2 separate regions of the Homo sapiens genome follow, and region 1 is linked to region 2. The links come from fine-mapping of genetic effects on gene expression. Tissue or cell type: unexposed skin. Region 2 holds a variant in brackets; the other region holds the start of a gene. All regions are shown on one strand. Distances are between the middles of the regions.

The links. PIP is the estimated chance that this variant, and not a neighbour inherited with it, causes the effect.
Region 1: it holds the start of PSEN2, and the variant in region 2 is fine-mapped to the expression of PSEN2 in unexposed skin (GTEx, PIP 0.93).

The regions. Positions count from the first base shown.
Region 1 is chr1:226,865,535-226,875,688 of GRCh38, forward strand. It overlaps PSEN2 (presenilin 2), which reads left to right and starts at 5,082. Exons shown (of 13, transcript NM_000447.3): 1 at 5,082-5,115; 2 at 5,728-5,870; 3 at 9,831-10,016. LOC105373119 (a long non-coding RNA gene) reads right to left here and starts at 5,016. Exons shown (of 3, transcript XR_949226.4): 1 at 4,828-5,016. RefSeq lists silencers at 4,885-5,484, 5,495-5,544.
Region 2 is chr1:226,894,584-226,904,543 of GRCh38, forward strand. It overlaps PSEN2 (presenilin 2), which reads left to right. Exons shown (of 13, transcript NM_000447.3): 13 at 841-1,515. The coding sequence ends at 996. Among named protein-coding and RNA genes, the nearest start is that of PSEN2, 29 kb to the left of the region's middle. RefSeq lists a silencer at 1,311-1,542. The variant T/C (reference allele first, on the strand shown) is at 3,178.

The DNA of each region.
Region 1 (10,154 bases), 29 kb before region 2:
TCTGATTTCCAGAGTTATCACATTATAATATTCAAAATGACCAGTTTTTTTCTTTCAATCAGCTTCCTCAGGTTGAAATGTCGTTTTTAACAGCAGCAAAAAAAATTAGAAGGCATACCAAGAAAAAAAGAAAAGTATAACCCATTCACAGGAAAAAGAAACTGACAGAAGCCATCCGTGAGGAAGCCTAGACATTGAACTTGCCAGGCAAAGAGGGCTGGACTGTTCAGCCCTACCCCTTGACCTCCTGGGTCAATGATTTTATGGCCAATGATGTTGATCAATCAATGGTGCCTACGCAATAAAACTTCCATAAACACCCCCAAATGGCTACGTCTGGGGAGCTTCTGCTAACTTCAGGTACATATTATCAGAATTGAATTGAATTGTAGGACACACACTTGGTGTCTGGAGAATTGTTTTTGTGTGGAATAAAAAAACCACACACTTGGTGTCAGAAGTGTTGTGAGAAAAAATAGTTCAGAGAAGTATTCCCTCCTCTTCTATTTCTTAGTAGAGTTTGAGAATTGGTGTTAATTTTTCTTTAAAGGTTTGGCAGAAAATTCACCAAGCTGAAGCCATCTGGTCCTGCTTTAGGGGAGGTTTTTGATTACTGATTCAACCTTTTTTTTTTTTGTTTGTTTTTGAGATGGAGTCTCGCTCTGTCACCCAGACTGGAATGCAGTGGCTCAATCTCGGCTCACTGCAAGCTCCGCCTCCCGGGTTCATGCCATTCTCCCGACTCAGCCTCCTGAGTAGCTGGGACTACAGGCGCCTGCCACCACACCCGGCTTTTTTTTTTTTTTTTTTAGTAGAGATGGGGTTTCACCGTGTTAGCCAGGATGGTCTCAATCTCCTGACCTCGTGATCTGCTGGTCTCAATCTCCTGACCTCGTGATCTGCCCGTCTCAGCCTCCCAAAGTGCTGGGATTACAGGCTTGAGCCATCGTGCCTGGCCTTACTGATTCAACCTCTTATTGGATTCAATCTCTTTACTTTTCCTAGCTTGTTCAGATTTATTTCTTCCTGAGTCAGTTTTGGTCATTTGTGTACAGTTGTTCACAGTATTCACTTAAAATGCTTTTTTTTTTTTTTCCTGTAAGGTCCATAGTGATGCCCCTACTTTCATGTCTGATTTTAGTTATTTGCATCTTTACTCTTTATTTCTCAGTCTAGCTAAAGATTTGTCAGTGTTGTTCATCTTTTCAAAATTTTCATTTCAGCTATTGTACTTTTCAGCTCCAGAATTTTGATTTGGTTTATTTTTCATAATTTGTCTCTTTGCTGATATTCTGTTTATACATTTATTGTTTACCTGGCTTCCTTTAGTTCTTTGTCCATGGTTTCCTTTAGTTAGTTAAGCATATTTAAGACCATTTAAATAAACGTTTAAGTAAACTTTTAAACATTTAAATAAAAGTCTTTGTCTAGCAAGTTCAATGTCTAGGCCTCCCCAGGGATGGTTTCTATCAATTTCTTTTTCCTGTGAATGGGTTGTACTTTTCTTTTTTCTTGGTATGCTTCCTATTTTATTTATTTATTTACTTTTTGGTTAAAAACTGGGCACTTCGGGCCTGGCATGGTGGCTCACGCCTGTAATCCCAGCACTTTGGGATGCCGAGGTGGGTGGGTCACAAGGTCAGGCATTCGAGACCATCCTGGCCAACATAATGAAACCCTGTCTCTACTAAAAATACAAAAAATTAGCTGGGTGTGGTGGTGGGTGCCTGTAATCCCAGCAACTCGGAAGGCTGAGGCAGGAGAATCGCTTGAACCTGGGAGGTGGAGGTTGCAGGCTGCTGAGATCGCGCCACTGCACTCCAGCCCTGGTGACAGTGGGAGTCTCTGTCTCAAAAAAAAAAAAAAAAACAAAAACTGGGCACTTCAACCTGAAAAAGCTGATTGAAAGAAAAAAAAACCTGGGCATTTTGAATATTATAATGTGGTAACTCTGGAAATCAGATCCTGTTAATGCTTATTAAGGGCTGCAGTCTTCTGTTTGTTTAGATCATGCCTTAGTCTTTCTGGCCACCAGCCCCTATCCTGAAGCTAGTCAGGGGTCCCCAGCCACCAGTCATTTCATTAGCATACCAACAACATTCATCACACCTGAGATTCCAAAGGTTTTAGAAGCTTGTGCCAGGAACGGGGATAAAGACCAAATATTTATTTTTATTATATCACAACTTCCTAACTCATTTATTGAGTCATTATGCTTCACCTTAGGGCATATGCAGCCTCTTCACATTAGGGGAAATTCAGCCTATCAAGTGCAACACTGAAAGCTAAATAACAACAACACAACAACAACCAATCAGGGATGGGCGCGGTGGCTCATGCCTGTAATCTAATCCCAGCACTTCAGGAGACCGAAGCGGGAGGGTCACTTCAGGTCAGGAATTCGAGACCACCCTGGTCAACATGGCAAAAACCCCCTCTCTACTAAAATTACAAAAATTAGCTGGGCAGGGTGGCACATACCTGTAATTCCAGCTAACTTGGGAGGCTGAGGCAAGAGAATCACTTGAACTTGGGAGGCAGAGGTTGCAGTGATCTGAGATCGTGCCACTGCACTCCAGCCTGGGCGAAAAAGCAAGACCCTGTTTCAAAACAACAACAACAACAAACCAGGTTGGGGAGTTATTTCCCAGGAATTCTGTAGCAAGGGCTCATATGCATCAGTTAGAGTTGGACTTTGTGACCTTCAGGTGTCCTTCCTTTTCCAAGAATCGATTATTTTTATAATTCTGTTAAATGTAATTAATTTCTCAAATTTATCAAAGATCATTATTTGGACCATTATTTTCTTAGCCAAAATGCTGGCCTGCCCCAGTTCCATCCAGGGTTAATCTGCATTTAAACAGCTCTTTGAAAATATTTGGTTTTCCCCATCCATCTATGGCCAATTGATTTTTGACAAGAAGCCAAGACAATTCAATAGGAAAAGGACAATCTCTTCAACGAATGGTGCTGGGACAACTAGAAGTCCACATGCAAAACAATGAACTTGGACCCTAACCTCACACTACATACAAAAATTATCTTAAAATGGATCAACAACCTAAATATAGGAGCTAAAACTATAAAACTCTTAGAAGAAAACACAGGAGTAAATCTTCACAACCTTGGATTTGACAATGATATCTCACACAGGACACCAAATGCACAAACAACAAAAGAAAAAACAGTTAAGCTGAAGTTCATCAAAATTAAAGTTTTATGTGCATGAAAGGACATCAGAAAGTGAAAAAGACAATTACAGAATGGGAGAGAAATATTTGCAAAGCATATATCTGATAAGGGTCTAGTGTCCAGAATATATAAAGAACTCTTACAACCCAACAACAAAAAGACAACCCAATTTTAAAATGGGCAAAGGACTTGAATAGGCATGTCTCCAAAGAAGATATACAGATGGCCAACAAACACATGAAAAGGAGAATGCTTAATAGCATTAGTTATTAGGAAAATGTAAACCAAAACCAGAATGAGGTACCGCTGCACACCTACTAGGATAACAATAAAATGGAAAATAACAAGTGTTGGTGAGGATGTGGAGAAATTGGGATCCTGTACATTGCTGGTAGGAATATAAAATGGTTCAGCCATCGTGGAAACCACTTGGGGTTCCCCAAATAGTTAAACACTGAAGGCTGGGCACGGTGGCTCATGCCTATAATCCAGCACTGTGGGAGGCCAAGGCAGGCAGATAACTTGAGTTCAGGATCAAGACCAGCCTGGCCAACATGGGGAAACCCCATCTCTACTAAAAATACAAAAATTAGCCAGATGTGGTGGCACACACCTGTAACTCCAGCTACTCAGGAGGCCGAGGCAAGATAATTGCTCGAACCTGGGAGGCAGAGGTTGCAGTGAGCCAAGATTGCGGCCACTGCACTCTAGGCTGGGCAACAGAGCAAGGCTCTGTCTCAAAAAAAAAAAAAAATTGAATTACCATGCGATCCAACAATTCAACCCCTATGTATGTACCCTCCCCAAATAAAAATGGGCTCTCAAACAAATACATGTACATGCATGTTCATGGTAGCATTATTCACAAAGCCAAAAGATGCAAACAGCCCCAATGTCCATAGATGAATAAACTGTGGCATACATGATACACACACACACACGCACACACATATACATATACACACACAAACACTATTCAGTCATAAAAAGGAATAAAGTCTGTTACATGCTACCTGAGGATGAACCTCGAAAACATGCTAAGTGAAAGACACAAAAGTCCACACACTGTGATTCCGTTTATATGAAGTATCTAAAGTAAGTAAATATAGAGACAGAAGTAGACTGGTAATTGCCAGGGGCTGGGGGGGAAGAGGGCATTGGGAAGAAACTTCTCAATGGGTATGGGGTTTTTCTTTCGGAATGAGGAAAATGTTTTGGAACTAGACAGAGGTGGTGGTTGCACAGCATTGTGAATTCACTAAATGCCACTGAAATGCCCACTTTAAAATGGTAAATTTTATGTTATGTGAATTTCACCTTAAGTTAAAAAAAAAAAAGTAAAACTACTCAGACAACGCCAAATTATTGACAATCTCAACCTACCCCACAGACCCCAAATCCTGGAACCACAACCCCCTAGGCCAATTCTCAGGTCAGGCAGCAATTTATTCCTGTTCAATTTTATGCAGAGCTCCTGGTGGCTCTGAAGCGCCCTAGGGAACAGACCAGGAACATTCTCATGGTGTTAGCTCACATTGGGCCATTAGTGCTCCTTTAATGTGAGAACAACCGGGAGGAGGAGGGGATGTGGACCCAAAACTACAAGAAAGAGTGTCCTCGAAGCCTATGTCCTACCGCCCCACGCTGCTGCCAGGCCCGCAGGAAGATGACAGGCCCGGCCTCCACTCCTTCTAAGGTCGTCGCTTAGTTCCGACGTCGGGATGACCCTGTCATCCACGCGGCGTGAAGGCCACCCTCCCCGCGCGCCCGGGACTCCAGGTGGGGCCCCAGTGGACGAGGGAACGCGGCGTCGCCCACCGGGCGTGGCCTGGGCGGGCGTGGGGCGGGGCCTGGGCCGGCGCCGGGTCCGGCCGGGCGCTCAGCCAGCTGCGTAAACTCCGCTGGAGCGCGGCGGCAGAGCAGGTGAGCGGGCGGTGCCGGGGGGTGCCCAGGCCAGGGCCCTGTCGCCTGCGGCGCTGAGGGCCCGGGGTGGGGCTGCGCCCTGAGGGCCCTGCCCTGCCCTCCGCACGCCTCTGGCCACGGTCCCTTCCCCGGCTGTGGGTCTGCGGCCCCTGCGTGCGCAGCGCTCCTGGCCTCTGCGGCCAGCGCGGGGGCGGAGAGAGGAGAGTGCCCGGCAGGCGGCGGCTGGGCCGGCCCGGAACTGGGTCGTGGAAGGATCGCGGGGAGCGGCCCTCAGGCCTTCGGCCTCACTGCGTCCCCACTTCCCTGCGCCCGCCTGCCGCCGAGCCCCGGCTGGGGGTGGGCGCGGCGCGAGCGGTTAAAGGGCCGGTGCATTTAAAGGAGCGGTGCACGTGGGTCTCTGAGGCGTGTAGCAGGCGGGGGCGTTTTGTTCTTCTTCTCTCTCGCCGGAGACCTCCGTTGCGCCGAGTCCATTCGGCCTCTAGCACCGGGTCCTGGGCATGCTTTCCCCGGGAAGGAGGCGCGCGGGGGCTCTGCCCGCACGTGAGGGGCAGGGCCGCAGGCTCAAGCCTAGAGCCGGTTTCTGTTAGCAGCGGTGTTTGGCTGTTTTATCAGGCATTTCCAGCAGTGAGGAGACAGCCAGAAGCAAGCTTTTGGAGCTGAAGGAACCTGAGACAGAAGCTAGTCCCCCCTCTGAATTTTACTGATGAAGAAACTGAGGCCACAGAGCTAAAGTGACTTTTCCCAAGGTCGCCCAGGTACGATATAGCAGAGCCAGGCTTCGACCCCAGTGTCCTGGCTTCTAGATCTGCTGTCCATCCCTCCGAGCAGACCTCACCCCTGTTTATTGCCTTAATAAGTATTCCCTTTGAAAGGTATGAACGGTGTTGAGTGAAGTAACTGCATCCCTATTTACAAATGGAGAACCTGAGAGCATTCCATAGAGACGATTGTAGACTAACTTAACTCAGAAGCGACAGCCTGGGGTTGCCAAGGCTGTCTACGAAGTAACTTGATTAGGACCGACCCCAGCTTCCAGTAAGGAAGCCTCTGATGCCTCTGTAGCCAATTCTGCAGACACCTGAGCCTCCAAGGCCTTCAGCCAAGACCTTTGGCGGTAATTGGAGTCTCGGGATAAGCTGCTTCAGGTGTGTGAGCCTCAGGTTCTTCTCTCCTGAATGTGGTTGTGGGCAGCCGGTGACTGGCGCAGGTGCAGAAGGGGCCTGGTTCTTGGCCCCACCTCAGAGCTGCGTCCTCACGACGCCCACGTTGAGCCTTGGGTTCCAGGGCAGAGACTGGAGTGAGGGCTTGGGGGCATGTTGCTTTGAAGTGGGATGGATGTATCAGGTTTTTGGGGAAAACTCTGTACCCTTTGGTGTTGAAGTGCCCATGTGCCAAGTCTTGAGTCCAGCATGTTCACATGTGGGGAGTGAGTGGCTTGTTCCTGTCTATTTGAAAGAGCAGCAAGGAGGAGGAGGAGCAAGGGCTAGGGGCTGCTGCTGGGGTGCCTGGAGCTGTGGTGCATAATGTCACACCTGTCTCCCCTCCGTAGCTGCTCACCGTCCCCCCAAGGGGGGTTTGCCTCTTGCCTACTTTGGCCTTTCTCTGTTATCGATGTTAATAATGACATATATCTCGCTTATGAGTTGGTCATAATAAAAAGCTATCTTGTACAGAATATTAGAATTTAAGATCTTAAGAATTTCAATGACACTGAAATAGTTTATTATTACCTTTTTACAGAAGAGGAAACAAGTTCAGGGAGTTAAGCAGCTAGTCCAGTTATGTGGCTTCAGTGCTTTAAGCACCAGGATTTGAACATAGCTGGCTACACTGTCTTTATCTCTTGAGTTTTTGCGCAGGAGGTTCCTGTATTCAACTCCTACCCGTGTCTCTCCACTACTGCTGGGAAAGTTTTGTGGAGTCCCCATGAGCAACTTCCTGACAAACAAACAAAATTTTTTTAAAGAAACCAAAGCAGTGTGTGTAGGTCACATGCAGTGTGTCTAATGAAAACATCTCTGGCGGGTTTTCAGCTGTTGCTTTGACTTTCGGACACTGTTTAGTTGGGGACTGATAAGACAGCAAATATTTCTGCAAGTATTCCCACCTGTTCTATTCCCAGCTGCCACAGCTGCGGAAAGGCGGGGGTGAGGCTGAGAGGCCCCGAGAGGAACATTTTCCACTGGGCTCCAATCCTGGAGATGGGATGACCATCATGTTAATGTCTGGAGAAAAGAATGATTTCAGGCTGGGTGCTGTGGCTCATGTCTGTAATCCCAGCACTTTGGGAGGCCGAGGTGGGTGGATCACCTGAGGTCGGAAGTTTGAGACCAGCCTGACCAACATGGAGAAACCCCATCTTTACTAAAAATACAAAATTAGCCGGGCGTGGTGGCACATGCCTGTAATCCCAGCTACTCAGGAGGCTGAGGCAGGAGAATCGCTTGAACCCAGGAGGCGGAGGTTGCAGTGAGCCGAGATCGGGCCATGGCACTCCAGCCTGGGCAACAAGAGCAAAACTCCATCTCAAAAAAAAAAAAATGGTTTCACATCAGTCCTCAGGAAAGATCAGATGTCAGTGAGGGAGATCATTTCTTGAGAGCCTCTTCACTGAGTGGGAGAATGGGCTGCTTGTTCATCTTTGTGAAAATTCTAGAACGGGAAGAACAATTCAAAGGGTGTCCACCATTCTGCTGTACCTTAACCAGAAACTTACTGGACTCTTTTTAAAATAAAAGTAATTCATGTTTATTCTAGAAAATTAGGGAAAAAAAATTTTTTTTGAGATGGAGTTTCACTCTTGTTGCCCAGGCTGGAGTGCGATGGTATGATCTCAGCTAACTGCAACCTCTGCTTGCCGGGTTCTAGCGACTCTCCTGCCTCAGCCTCCTGGGTAGCTGGGATTACAGGTGCCTGCCACCACTCCCAGCTAATTTTTGTATTTTTATTAGAGGCGGGGTTTCACCATGTTGGCCAGGCTGGTCTCAAACTCCTGACCTCAGGTGATCCGCCAACCTTGGCCTCCCAAAATGCTGGTATTACAAGCATAAGCCATTGCGCTGGGCTGAGATAACCACTCTTAACATGCATTTCCTTCCACACTGTTCACATATGCATATTTATCTATTAAAACAATAGAGGGAGGGAACCGTAGGTGAAGTTTGTGTATCCTGTTTTTTCTGTTATGCCTTCAGAATTTTCCTTTTATTGAGTACTCATGGAAAAGCAGATTTGATGGCTGTGTAGAGCATTTGAATTATTTATCCTACCAGTCCCACAGCAGGACACTTTCCCACCCTCCCTTTTGCCCCAGAGAAGCAGTGCCCTCTGTCCTCCCCATGCCCATATGTGGGCACTCCCCACCATGGAGCCAAACCTACCTGGGCAAGTAGCAGAGGGAGAGCAGAGTGAGCCCTGGGGGCAGGAGAGAGACTTGAGAGTTTTGAGGTGACAGATGAGCTGGTGAGTGAGTGATTAGGGAGCATTTCTTGACACATACCTGCCCGTGGTGAAGGCATGTGTCTTGTGAGTGTGCTCCCAGAAAGCCTGTGTAGTGTGTGGTGGGCCTGCCTGTGTGACCAAACCCTGGCCACTGGGTACGTGACCCTCACAAGTGCTGACTGGGCTGAGAAGAGCTCCTTGATGGGCAGTTTGGAGACTTGAGTTGTAACTGTGGCTTTTGGCCATGGGACATTAACTGATTACTTTTGCCCCTCTAGGCTTCAGTTGTCCTTAATTATAATACAGGGAGCTGACTAGGTGGCGTTGATGGCCTTTACGGTCCTTGCCAGCTCTGACATTGTCCTATGGATATGTCCTTTCATTTGATAATATGTTTACGTGGCCATAGTGCCTGGGGCTGGGCCGGGAATGGAAACTTGATCTCTGGGGCCTGGCCTTTGAAGCCAGTTCATGTGTCTGGTGGTTCAGCAGATCCGTAACTTTCCAAGAGGCACATCCATAGGCTACCGTGTCCTTTCTCACTGTGTCCCTCCTCCATTTCATCTTCTTTATAACTACGACTTATTGAACATCTACTGTGTGCTGGACACTTTACAGGTTATCTCTAGGTTTTACGATAATCTTGCAAGGTATGCCTGTTCTGCTTTTTACAGCAGAGGAAATGAGCTGTGTCAGATTAGACTGTCTGAGGCCTCTTGGCCAGGGAGTATGTGGTTCAAATCACATAGGCAGGCGATCTGAACCCTGTCAGTCTCCAAAGCCTCTGCTTTTGACCGCTGACTTGCTGCTGCTTGTTTAAAAATAAATGTGTTTCTGGAGCCTACTCCAGAGGGGCGTGCTAGGGGCTCCCTCTCCCACTTCCCCACAAACCACCCTTTTCCCTGGCTGCTTCAGGAAATGAGAGAACTCTGCCTGGGCCCCAGGCACTTCTGAGTGGGACAGGGCTGTTAGAGGTAAGTCTAGAGCCTGGCCCAAAATTCAGGAGGCCCCATCAGAGGGCCCCTGGGGCCTGTGGTCCGGGAGGGTGGTAGGGCAGTACCTCACTTCCCTTTGAGACTCAGGCCCCAGCTCTGGCTTAGGCCAGGGAGAACCATCCCCAAGTGGTATGTGTTACTATATGAGCTGAGATGGATGGTCAGCTGGACCAAATACATAGTCGGGTACCCAGGGCCAGGGGGAGGAAGGTGAGCAGGGAAGCTGTGGGCAATTGTCTGGGTATCACCTGACCTTAGCAAACTCTTCCTTGTTTTAAGCGAGGACGTGGGACTTCTCAGACGTCAGGAGAGTGATGTGAGGGAGCTGTGTGACCATAGAAAGTGACGTGTTAAAAACCAGCGCTGCCCTCTTTGAAAGCCAGGGAGCATCATTCATTTAGCCTGCTGAGAAGAAGAAACCAAGTGTCCGGGATTCAGACCTCTCTGCGGCCCCAAGTGTTCGTGGTAAGTGCAGTGACTCCCAACCTGCTTTTGAACCCTCTTTTTCCATTAGGATTTTCTCCGTGGAGGCAGATTTCCATGGGAGTTTGCTGTGGCATTTTGAAATCTGTTTCTTACCTAGTTCCATTGGCCTTAAATGTT
Region 2 (9,960 bases):
GTGGCCCCGTTACTGTGAACCACAGCAGTGAAATGTGGAGGCCCTGTAGTCAGTTAACGTGACCAGATACACATAATGGGGAGACGTCCTGCCGTGACTTCATCTCAGAGATTTCGCTGTCACGTTAGAGGAGGAGGAGCGTCTGAGCCGTGCGCTTGGCATCTGCCCCTTAGTGAAAACCCTGGGCATGGCATGATTAAGGTTGATGCTCCAGTGTCCAGAAGGTTTTCTTTTTGCCCACAAGTATATCAGGGATGGGATGGTGGACCCAGGCTCCTCCACCACCAGACTGCCTTACCTGAGCCCTGCTGGCCCCAAAGATATAGAAGGCACCCTGGTTCCCTGTGCTCACCTGGACCACTGCCTGCATCAGCTGGGTCAGGGGAGGATGGGCAGCCCCCACACCTGCTTCCCAGGGGCAGGTTGCCTGGCGGCTCTGATTCCCTTGGTGCCAGCTGCTGAGAACCTTACTGCCATTTCAGTTGAGCCCACCTAGCTCTCATATAAATACATGTTCCCTGAGGGCATCTTACCATCCCATGTGACCACTCCAGCCAGACAGGGGAGGCAGCACGGCCTCGGGGCACAGCACTGCTCCAGGAGTCAGGAGGCCTGCCTTCTGGTTCACTCACTAACAGGTGAGGTGATCTAATGGGGGTGAGAACTTCTGCCCTTAACACCTCAAGAGCTGTTGCAGGACCAGGGAAGATAATGGGGTGTCTAGCGCCGTTATCCGACTGGTCCTCGAACAAGCTCCTGTGCCCAGGGACTAGACCATGACTCACAGCTCCTGTCCACACCAGGGATCACCACGCTCACCCTCCCCTCCATGTCCTGCAGGGCTTGTGTCTGACCCTCCTGCTGCTTGCTGTGTTCAAGAAGGCGCTGCCCGCCCTCCCCATCTCCATCACGTTCGGGCTCATCTTTTACTTCTCCACGGACAACCTGGTGCGGCCGTTCATGGACACCCTGGCCTCCCATCAGCTCTACATCTGAGGGACATGGTGTGCCACAGGCTGCAAGCTGCAGGGAATTTTCATTGGATGCAGTTGTATAGTTTTACACTCTAGTGCCATATATTTTTAAGACTTTTCTTTCCTTAAAAAATAAAGTACGTGTTTACTTGGTGAGGAGGAGGCAGAACCAGCTCTTTGGTGCCAGCTGTTTCATCACCAGACTTTGGCTCCCGCTTTGGGGAGCGCCTCGCTTCACGGACAGGAAGCACAGCAGGTTTATCCAGATGAACTGAGAAGGTCAGATTAGGGCGGGGAGAAGAGCATCCGGCATGAGGGCTGAGATGCGCAAAGAGTGTGCTCGGGAGTGGCCCCTGGCACCTGGGTGCTCTGGCTGGAGAGGAAAAGCCAGTTCCCTACGAGGAGTGTTCCCAATGCTTTGTCCATGATGTCCTTGTTATTTTATTGCCTTTAGAAACTGAGTCCTGTTCTTGTTACGGCAGTCACACTGCTGGGAAGTGGCTTAATAGTAATATCAATAAATAGATGAGTCCTGTTAGAATCTTGGAGTTTGGTCCGTTGTAAATGTTGACCCCTCTCCCTGCATCTTGGGCACCCCTGGGATAACTTGTGCTGTGAGCCCAGGATGGAGGCAGTTTGCCCTGTTTGAAGGAACTTTTAATGATCTCGCCTCTCTGCACACATTTCTTTAACTAGAAAGTTTCCTAAGCAAAGGAGTTAGGAGAGCAGGGTGGCCTGACATCTGCCAGCCCTGAGCTGTAAGGCTGTGGATGCTGAGCAGGTCCCTGGACTCAGTTGTGCACGGTGGCACAGACACTGCCAGGTGGTTGCCAAAACATCCAGTGGTTCCTTCAGCAAGTGTTCACCCTCTGCAGAAGCCTGTGAGGGCCTGAGCTCAGAAACCACTCTCCTTTCCTTCTCTGGCTTTGGCCCTGGGCACTGTGGTGGGAGAGTGGACAGTTTGGCTTTGCCTTCTCTGTACATCAATCATGGGTTGCAAAGAGAATCTCAGAAGTGCCTCTTCCTGAGCACAGTGGCTCACACCTGTAATCCCAATACTTCGGGAGGTCGAGTCGGAAGGATCACTTGAGCCCAGGAGTTTGAGACCAGCCGGGGCAACATAGTGAGACTTTGTACAAAAAAAAATTTAAAAATTAGCCAAGCATGGTGGCATGCATCTGTAGTCTCAGCTACTCTGGAGGCTGAGGTGGGAGGATCACTTAAGCCCAGGAGGCTGAGGCTGCAATGAGCCGAGATCAAGCAGGTGTTAGGTATATCAGACAGCTGAGAAGACGCAAGTGTGCCCTGGGGTTCAAACTGGTACCCCTGTCTCCCTGTTCCAGGAATAACATGAGTGCCGGGACAATGCATCTTTATTATGAGAGGAATGAGAATTGTGTATCTTGACATTTGACAGGAGCTTGCTTTCCCCCAGGCTGTTTGAGGAAGGGCAGAGGAAAATGTGGTGCCCTAAGAAGGAAGGACAGAGGAGGCCGAACACTGGCGGGTGGAATCCCACTGATTAGTAGTGCAGGTCAGAGACCTGGGATGGGGGGCATTGCCGTCATGGAAGCCACAGCGGGGAGCGGGTAAAGCAGACAGGGATGGTCCCTGATGGTGACAACTCGCAAGAGGTTAAGGGGAAAGAAAAACTGAAAAGCTTATTCAATTTGGCAATTATGGCAGTGTTTATCTTCAGAAGAGCAGTTTTAGGGTGGGGTTTCCAAAGATGGGATTGGACATATATTTTGAATCATTAAGCTTGAGGTCTTTCAAAGGCCTGGCCAAGGGTTGCTGGGTGGAGACCACATTCAGAGGTAAAGGCAGAAATTGGGGGCCCTTAAGTAGACAGCGAGGGAGGAAGAAATGAAGGGGCCTGGTGATGGTTAGGGTGAAGTGTTAAGACTGAGAAAACAAGGACATGTGAGAAGACGAGGGAAGAGCATTGGAGAGAACAAAGACACTGGAGGAGATGCTACTTGGAGGTCCCCAGAGAGCAGGGAGACAAATGAACCCAGAACACAAATGGCAAAGAAGAAAAATGAGAGAATTTGTAAAAGACAGCATTCGAACATGCCGAACAAGAGCAGGGTACTGGTGTTCAAACACCTGTATCTCCCCCGTGTAACCCGTCAACTAATATCTTTCCATATTTGCTCCAGATTTGTCTTTAGAAATAAAACCCACGTTCTGAAGTCCTGTT[T/C]GTATGTGGCCCCAGTCCTGTTGCCTCCGCCTCCTGTCCTGAAGTCGATTTCTGCCCTTCTCATCTATGGTTAGTTTTGTTTTGTATGTTGGCATGTTTTCTTAACTTTACAGAAATGGTATCATACTGTACATATTTGATAATTTTTTAAAATATTGCATTCTGGAGGCATGTATAAATGTAGCTCCAGTTCATTTATTTTATTTATTTTTTGAGATGGAGTTTTGCTCTTGTCACCCAGGCTAGAGTGCAATGGCGTGATGTTGGCTCACTGCAACCTCTGCCTCCTGGGTTCAAGCAATTCTCCTGTCTCAATTTCCTGAGTAGCTGGGATTACAGTTGCCCGCCACCATGCCTGGCTAATTTTGTATTTTAGTAGAGACGGGGTTTCACCACGTTAGCCAGGCTGGTCTCAAACTCCTGACTGCAGGTGATCCACGCACCTTGGCCTCCAAAAGTGCTGGGATTACAGGCGTGAGCCACCGTGCCCAGCCCAGTTATTTTAACTATTGTATAGTGTTCCATTGTATGAGTTCTACTGTTTATATGCTATTGATCGACCTGTAGGGGTTTTGCAGTGTTTCTGTATTACAGCTGTGCTGCAGTGAGCATCCCATCACATTGTGTGGATTTGAGGAAGTATTGGAATTCCCCCAATTGACTGGACATTCCCAATTACCCTCCAAGTATGTGTCTGTTTATCCTTCCATCCGCAATCTGAGAGTTCCCCAACTCTATAATACTTGGTGTCATCAGACTTTTCATCTTGTCTGATTGGATGGGTGTCATTTCCTTTAGGTTTTATAATTATCTTTTCATATGTGTATTGGCTGTACAAGGTTCCTTCTCTGTTCATTATTATTAATTTTTTTAGACAGAGTCTCGCGCTGTCGCCCAGGCTGGAGTGCAGCAGCGTGATCTTGGCTCACTGCAAGCTCCGCCTCCCGGGTTCATGCCATTCTCCTGCCTCAGCCTCCTGAGTAGCTGGGATTACAGGTGCCTGCCATCACGCCCGGCTAGTTTTTTTGTATTTTGAGTAGAGATGGGGTTTCACCGTGTTAGCCAGGAGGGTCTCGATCTCCTGACCTCGTGATCCACCCGCCTCGGCCTCCCAAAGTGCTGGGATTACAGGTGTGAGTCACTGCGCCCAGCCCAAGTTTCCTTCTCTGTTACTTGTTCATATCCTCTGCCCATTTTTCACTTGGATTTTTTGTCTTACGGATATTTAAGCCTCTTAAAATATATATTCTGGAGAGATGCTAATCTTTGATTAATTATATGCATTGCAAATGTCTGGTACATTGTGGCTTGCCTCTCTTCCCTGCCTTTAGGAGTGTTTTGCTGGACCCAAGTAATTTTTAAATGTTAATGTTATTAAATCTATCAGTTTTTTGCTTGTATGGCTTATGCCATTGAATCTTGTTTTAAGAGATCCTTCCCTACCCTCAAGGTTTTCTAAATTTTTATTTTCATAATAAGATTTTTAGTTCATCTGAAATGTATTTTTATGATTGTATTTAGTAGGGACCTAATTTTGTTTTTCTTTGTAACCAGGTGTCCCAGCACTGTTTACTGAACAGTCTCTCCTTTCTCGCTGGTCTGTAGAACTCTCCTGACATATACCAAGTTTCCATAAGTGGGTGGATGGGTTCCTGAGCTCTCTACTGTTAATAGAACTTGCTCTCTCGCAGGCCAATGCCTCACCAGGTGATTGAAGCAGAGAAACTTAGGTGGTGAAAGGAGAAGATGGGGCCTGTCCTGAGAGTTTCTGTTCCTGAGATGCTAGAGGCAGAGGGTATGTAAATCTGAAGTTACACTGGATCTCCTAAAACAGTATAAAGCTACAGAAGTATAATAGTGTGGAATGGTGGTGGGAGTCAGTAAGGGTTAGGTCACTGCAGTGGTTTAAACAAGATGGGCTAGAATCCTTTCACAGGCACAGGCAGCTTGGAGAGGGTGCAATAGTGCATGGTATCAGGGGTCAGATGCCTCTTTTTCCTTTGAGATCAGTAAGTGGCTTTCACCTCATGACCTAGGCTGGCTGCTGTGTGCTAGCCGTCAAGTCACACTCCATCCAGCATGAAAGGAGGTTAGAAAAGGGTGCATTTCCTCTTCTTAAAAACATGTCTCAAAGTTGCACACAGCACTTTTGCCTATATTCAATTGGCCATTAGTCCCACGGCCATACCTGTCTGAGACTGAGAGACTGGGAAATGTCTTTATTTCAAGTGGCCATATATCCACCTAAACAAGATAAGGGATACGTGGTTATGGCGTGTCTTTTGGTTTACCAATGCAGATAATGAAGTTACCAAAACAATGAGAAAATGGGGTCGTGAGGGATCATGTGAATCACAAGCTGATGTCTTCAAAGACGGTGGAAATGGGCCCCGGGAGGCAGCAGATGACAGCAGTGGGGATTAAGGTAGACCTCCATCCTGGGGTTAAAATGAGGGGAAGGTGATGGAGCTGGACCAGCAGTCAGAATGGTCAGTGGTTAGGAGACCCTCTGCCCCCCACCGCTGCCACCATTGGCTCTCTACAGAATGCCTGCGAGTGGCTTAGAGTGACCAAGGATGAGGTGCAGATCCATGTGCACCCCCCTGCCCCCTCTGTGGACAATTTTCATGCCTGACAGCACAGTCTATGTGGATTGCAAGCCGATGAAACTATGCAAAGTAGAAGCATGCCTGCAGTTTGTGATTCGGTGATGTGTTTTATGCTTATGTGAGTCGAATGGGGCGGCAGGGTCCTGTGGTCACCCGCTGAGAAGGAAGGGTCCTGTAACCACTGCCTTTCTTTCAGCTACTTGAGAAAGGTGTTGTGAGGGACCGTGGATTTTGGGACAGCTTTGAATGGTGGTAGGGAGGAAGGGTCCGGTCTGAGTGAATGGCCAGAAAGCTGTGGGGAAGCTTTTAGGACATTGGCCAAGAGCTCCCTGAAGGCAGCCAGGGAGATACTTGTCAGTACATGTGACTAATGGCCAACTGAATATAAGCAGAAGTGCTGTGTTGCTGTGTGCAACACTGGACACCTTAGGAAGGACCTCGAGACAGTGGTTGTGGACTCTGTAGAGAGTAACAGTGACAGTAGCAAACCCTTACCCAGTGCCAACCTTGTGCTAGGCTCGCACTAAATGAGTTTACCTTCAATTCTCGTAACAATAGGAGGTAACTACTATTCTAATTTCCATTTTATAGATGAGGAAACTAAGGCACAGAGATCACTGACTTGCCCAAAATCAAGCAGGGAGTAGTTAGTATATAAGCCCACGGTATGTGGTTTGTAGAATAGGTGCTCTTGACTAGCAGAAATAGGTCCTCCCTGCAGTGTGTAATTGATAACAAGCATGGGCTGCCATCTTCCTGTCGAGGCCACTCAAAACACCCAACAGGCTACGCACGGTGGCTCACACCTGTAATCCCAGCACTGTGGGAGGCCGAGGTGGGCGGGTCACCTGAGGTCAGGAGTTCGAGACCAGCCTGGCCGACATGGTGAAACTCCGTCTCTACTAACAGTACAAAAATTAGCTGGGCGTGGTGGCGGGCACCTGTAATCCCAGCTACTCAGGAGGCTGAGACAGAAGAATCACTTGAACCAGGGAGGCAGAGGTTGCAGTGAGACAAGATCACGCCATTGCACTCCAGCCTGTGTGACAAAAGCGAAACTGTCTCAAAAAAAAAAAAAAAAAAAGTATGATTTTATAATCCCAGCACCTTGGGAGGCTGAGTCGTGAGAATCACTTGAGCCCAGGAGTTTAAGACCAATCTAGGCAACATGGCAAGACCCCATCTCTGCCAAAAATAAAAAATAGTCTAATTTTAGCTATTCATGTGTGTGTGAAGTGGTGTCTCTTCGTGGCTTTGATCTGCATTTCCCTAATGCTGACTAATGACGTTGGGCACCTGTTCATGTGCTTACTGGTCAGATATCTTTCTTTTGTTACATTTTATTAAGTTTTAAAATTTAAAGTCAAAGATTTCCCTATGAGAATGACTTTTAAAATGACCAAAAAGGGGAAGATAACATTAATTCTTGAAGAGAAGGCCTCTGAGAAAAATACAGTTGTAGCAAGCTGCTACTTTGCAAATGACCCATGCATTTTAATTTTCCCCTAAGGAAGGCCAAGGAAGAGTCTTATCACCTCAGGGCAGGAGATGTAGGGACTTGGGTCATTTAATAAGAGTGGTAGGTTTGAAAACTCAAACCCAGAAGACTCCTTAGAGTTTCTCCCAGGAGGTAGGGAAGGGGCCGCATCCATGGAGAGAGGAGGATGTGACTTAGAGCAGTGGTCCCCAATCTTTAGGGACCAGGGACTGGTGTCATGGTAGACAGTTTTTCCACAGATAGGGGTTGGGGGGATGATTTGGAGCTGAAACTGCTCCACCTCAGGTCATCAGGCATTAGATTCTCATGTGGAGTGTGCCACTTAGATCCTTGGCGTGCACAGTTCACAATGGGGTTCGAGGTCCTATGAGAATCCGATGCCACTGATTTGACAGGAGGCGGAGCTCAGGTGGTAATGCTCATCTCCACCGCTTACCACCTGCTGTGCAGCCTGGTTCCTAATAGGCTATAGACTGGTACTGGTCCATGGCCTGGGGGTTGGGGACCCCTGATTTAGAGGAAGTAAGGGCATGGCTTACCGTGGGCCCTGGGGTGTTCTGGGAATGGGGAGGATGGAGAGAAGAGAGGAGGTAGGGAAGACCTCCCCTTGCTCCCCATTTGGGATTTGGGGAGAAAGTCAGGTCTCAGGCTCAACAGTACCTGATCCTGTACCATCTTCCAAAGGGAAGTCAGTGGGGTTGGAAGGTAGGCAGGGGTTATCTTCTCTGAGCCACGGCACAAGACAGAAGTTTCCCACCATTCCTGAGGGGGCAGGTGGTAGGTCCCCAAGCAGAGAGCCAGCAGTCCCTCTCTGAGGCCTGCAATGGAATGGGGTGGGGTGTCCACTGAGCCAAGGGTCTGTCAGTGAGAGCTGGGGAGGCTGGGCTGGCTTGCAAGCACCTGTTATAACCAAACCAGGAAATCAGGTTCCGAGTCTTGCCAGCAAGGGCCTACAGCTGCCAGCAGAGATGGACAGCCAGGAGACCCCAATTGGCCACCCAGAGCCACCCTCCTCTGCCTACCCCACCCTCCAGTACTCCAGAGCCTACTCGGAGGGGAACAGAAACCTGAGAGGCTGAACACACACACATGGAGAAACAAACGTAGTAAAATATTTGGGGAATCAGGAAGAATTATTTGTACTATTCCTGCAACCTTTCTATAGGCTTGAAATTATCAAAATAAATTTTTAAAAATTGTAATAACATTCTCATACTAAAACACTGAGTTTTTTTCTTTCATTTTTTGATTTTTTCTTTTTGACTCCAGCATGACTTACTCTAACAATGGGTGGTCTCGATTTTGAAATACTTTCTTCTCCAAGCCTTTCATGACACCCTGTCTCTGTTGGTTCTGAAAATGTTGGATTTTGTCTCAGCCCTTGCTTCTGGAAACAGCCAAGGTTAAGAAAACCCCCCATGCTTTGTGTTCTAGCAGACAGCTTCCTGCAAAGAGCCATCTTCCCAGAGCACTTAGGCCTCTTAGATGTCTCCCTTGTTTAATTATGACAAGAGCACACACACAGACCCTCCAAATTCCCATTCTTAGTCTTCTAAATGATTAGCTGAGCTGCTTTTCCCCACTGATTAATCGGAATAAAATGCTCATTAACCAAACTTCCCTCCTTTCCCCAGGTCCCTAAACTTTCCTGAGTCGGCAGACATCCCCTCTGGAGAAGAGGTTGGCCCCAGAGTCGAACATCCTCTGATCTACCTGATCCTGCTGCCCTTCCATTCCACTTCCCCACATCTGTTCTTTCTGGTCGTGTTTACTCCCCTATTAAAAAAACAAAACCAGAAAACGTGTTTGCCTAGATCTTGAGACTCTGGAAGATCTTAACAGTCAGAGGTTCCCCCTATTTGCAATGATCTCCTTTCCTGCCCCTTCCTATCCTTGCAATAATCCTTTTGAATAAAGTCTCTCCTTACTAAATCCAGTTCCTAAAAATTAATTTTTTTAGAGACAGTGTCTCGCTTTGTCACCCAGGCTGGAATGCAGTGGCATGATCATAGCTCACTGCAACCTCGAATTCCTGGGCTCAAGCAATCCTCCTGCCTCAACTGAGGCTACATGCATGCACCATCATGCCTTGCTAATTTTTTTTAATTTTTGTCGAGACAGGGTCTTGCTATATTGCCCAGGCTGGTCTGGAACTCCTGGCCTTAAGTGATTGTCCAGCCTCAACCTCCCAAAGCGCTGGGATTCAAGCATGAACCACCGCACCCAGCTCCAATTTTATTTTGTTTGGCAGTTTCCTCCTACTCTTCTTCCCTCCTCCTGCTCATTCCTTGGCCATTTTCCAGCTGCTGCTCTGCTTTTACCCTAGATGCACATTTTCAGGGCTCAGTTCTCATTCCTCTTCTCTGCTTGCTCCTCCTCTCTTCCCAGTGTGATCCTATCCATTCACGTGGCTTTCACAAGCGAGTTGCCTTCCCCAGTATCCCTCCTAGCAGATCCTGCTGTGCTCAGGGTGTCCTCCTGCATATTTAGCACTGCTCACCTCCCAGGGTCCTGGGCACTTAGGAGTGGCCATGTGACTCAGCTCTGCCAAAGTCTAGTGCTTGGGTCTTCCAGAAAAGCTATTGTTCTCCTGGTTTTAAAGGCGGGGAGGGGCGCCTCAGCCATAATCTGCCATTTTTTCCTTGCATGGGACACAGATGTGATGCTTTGAGATGT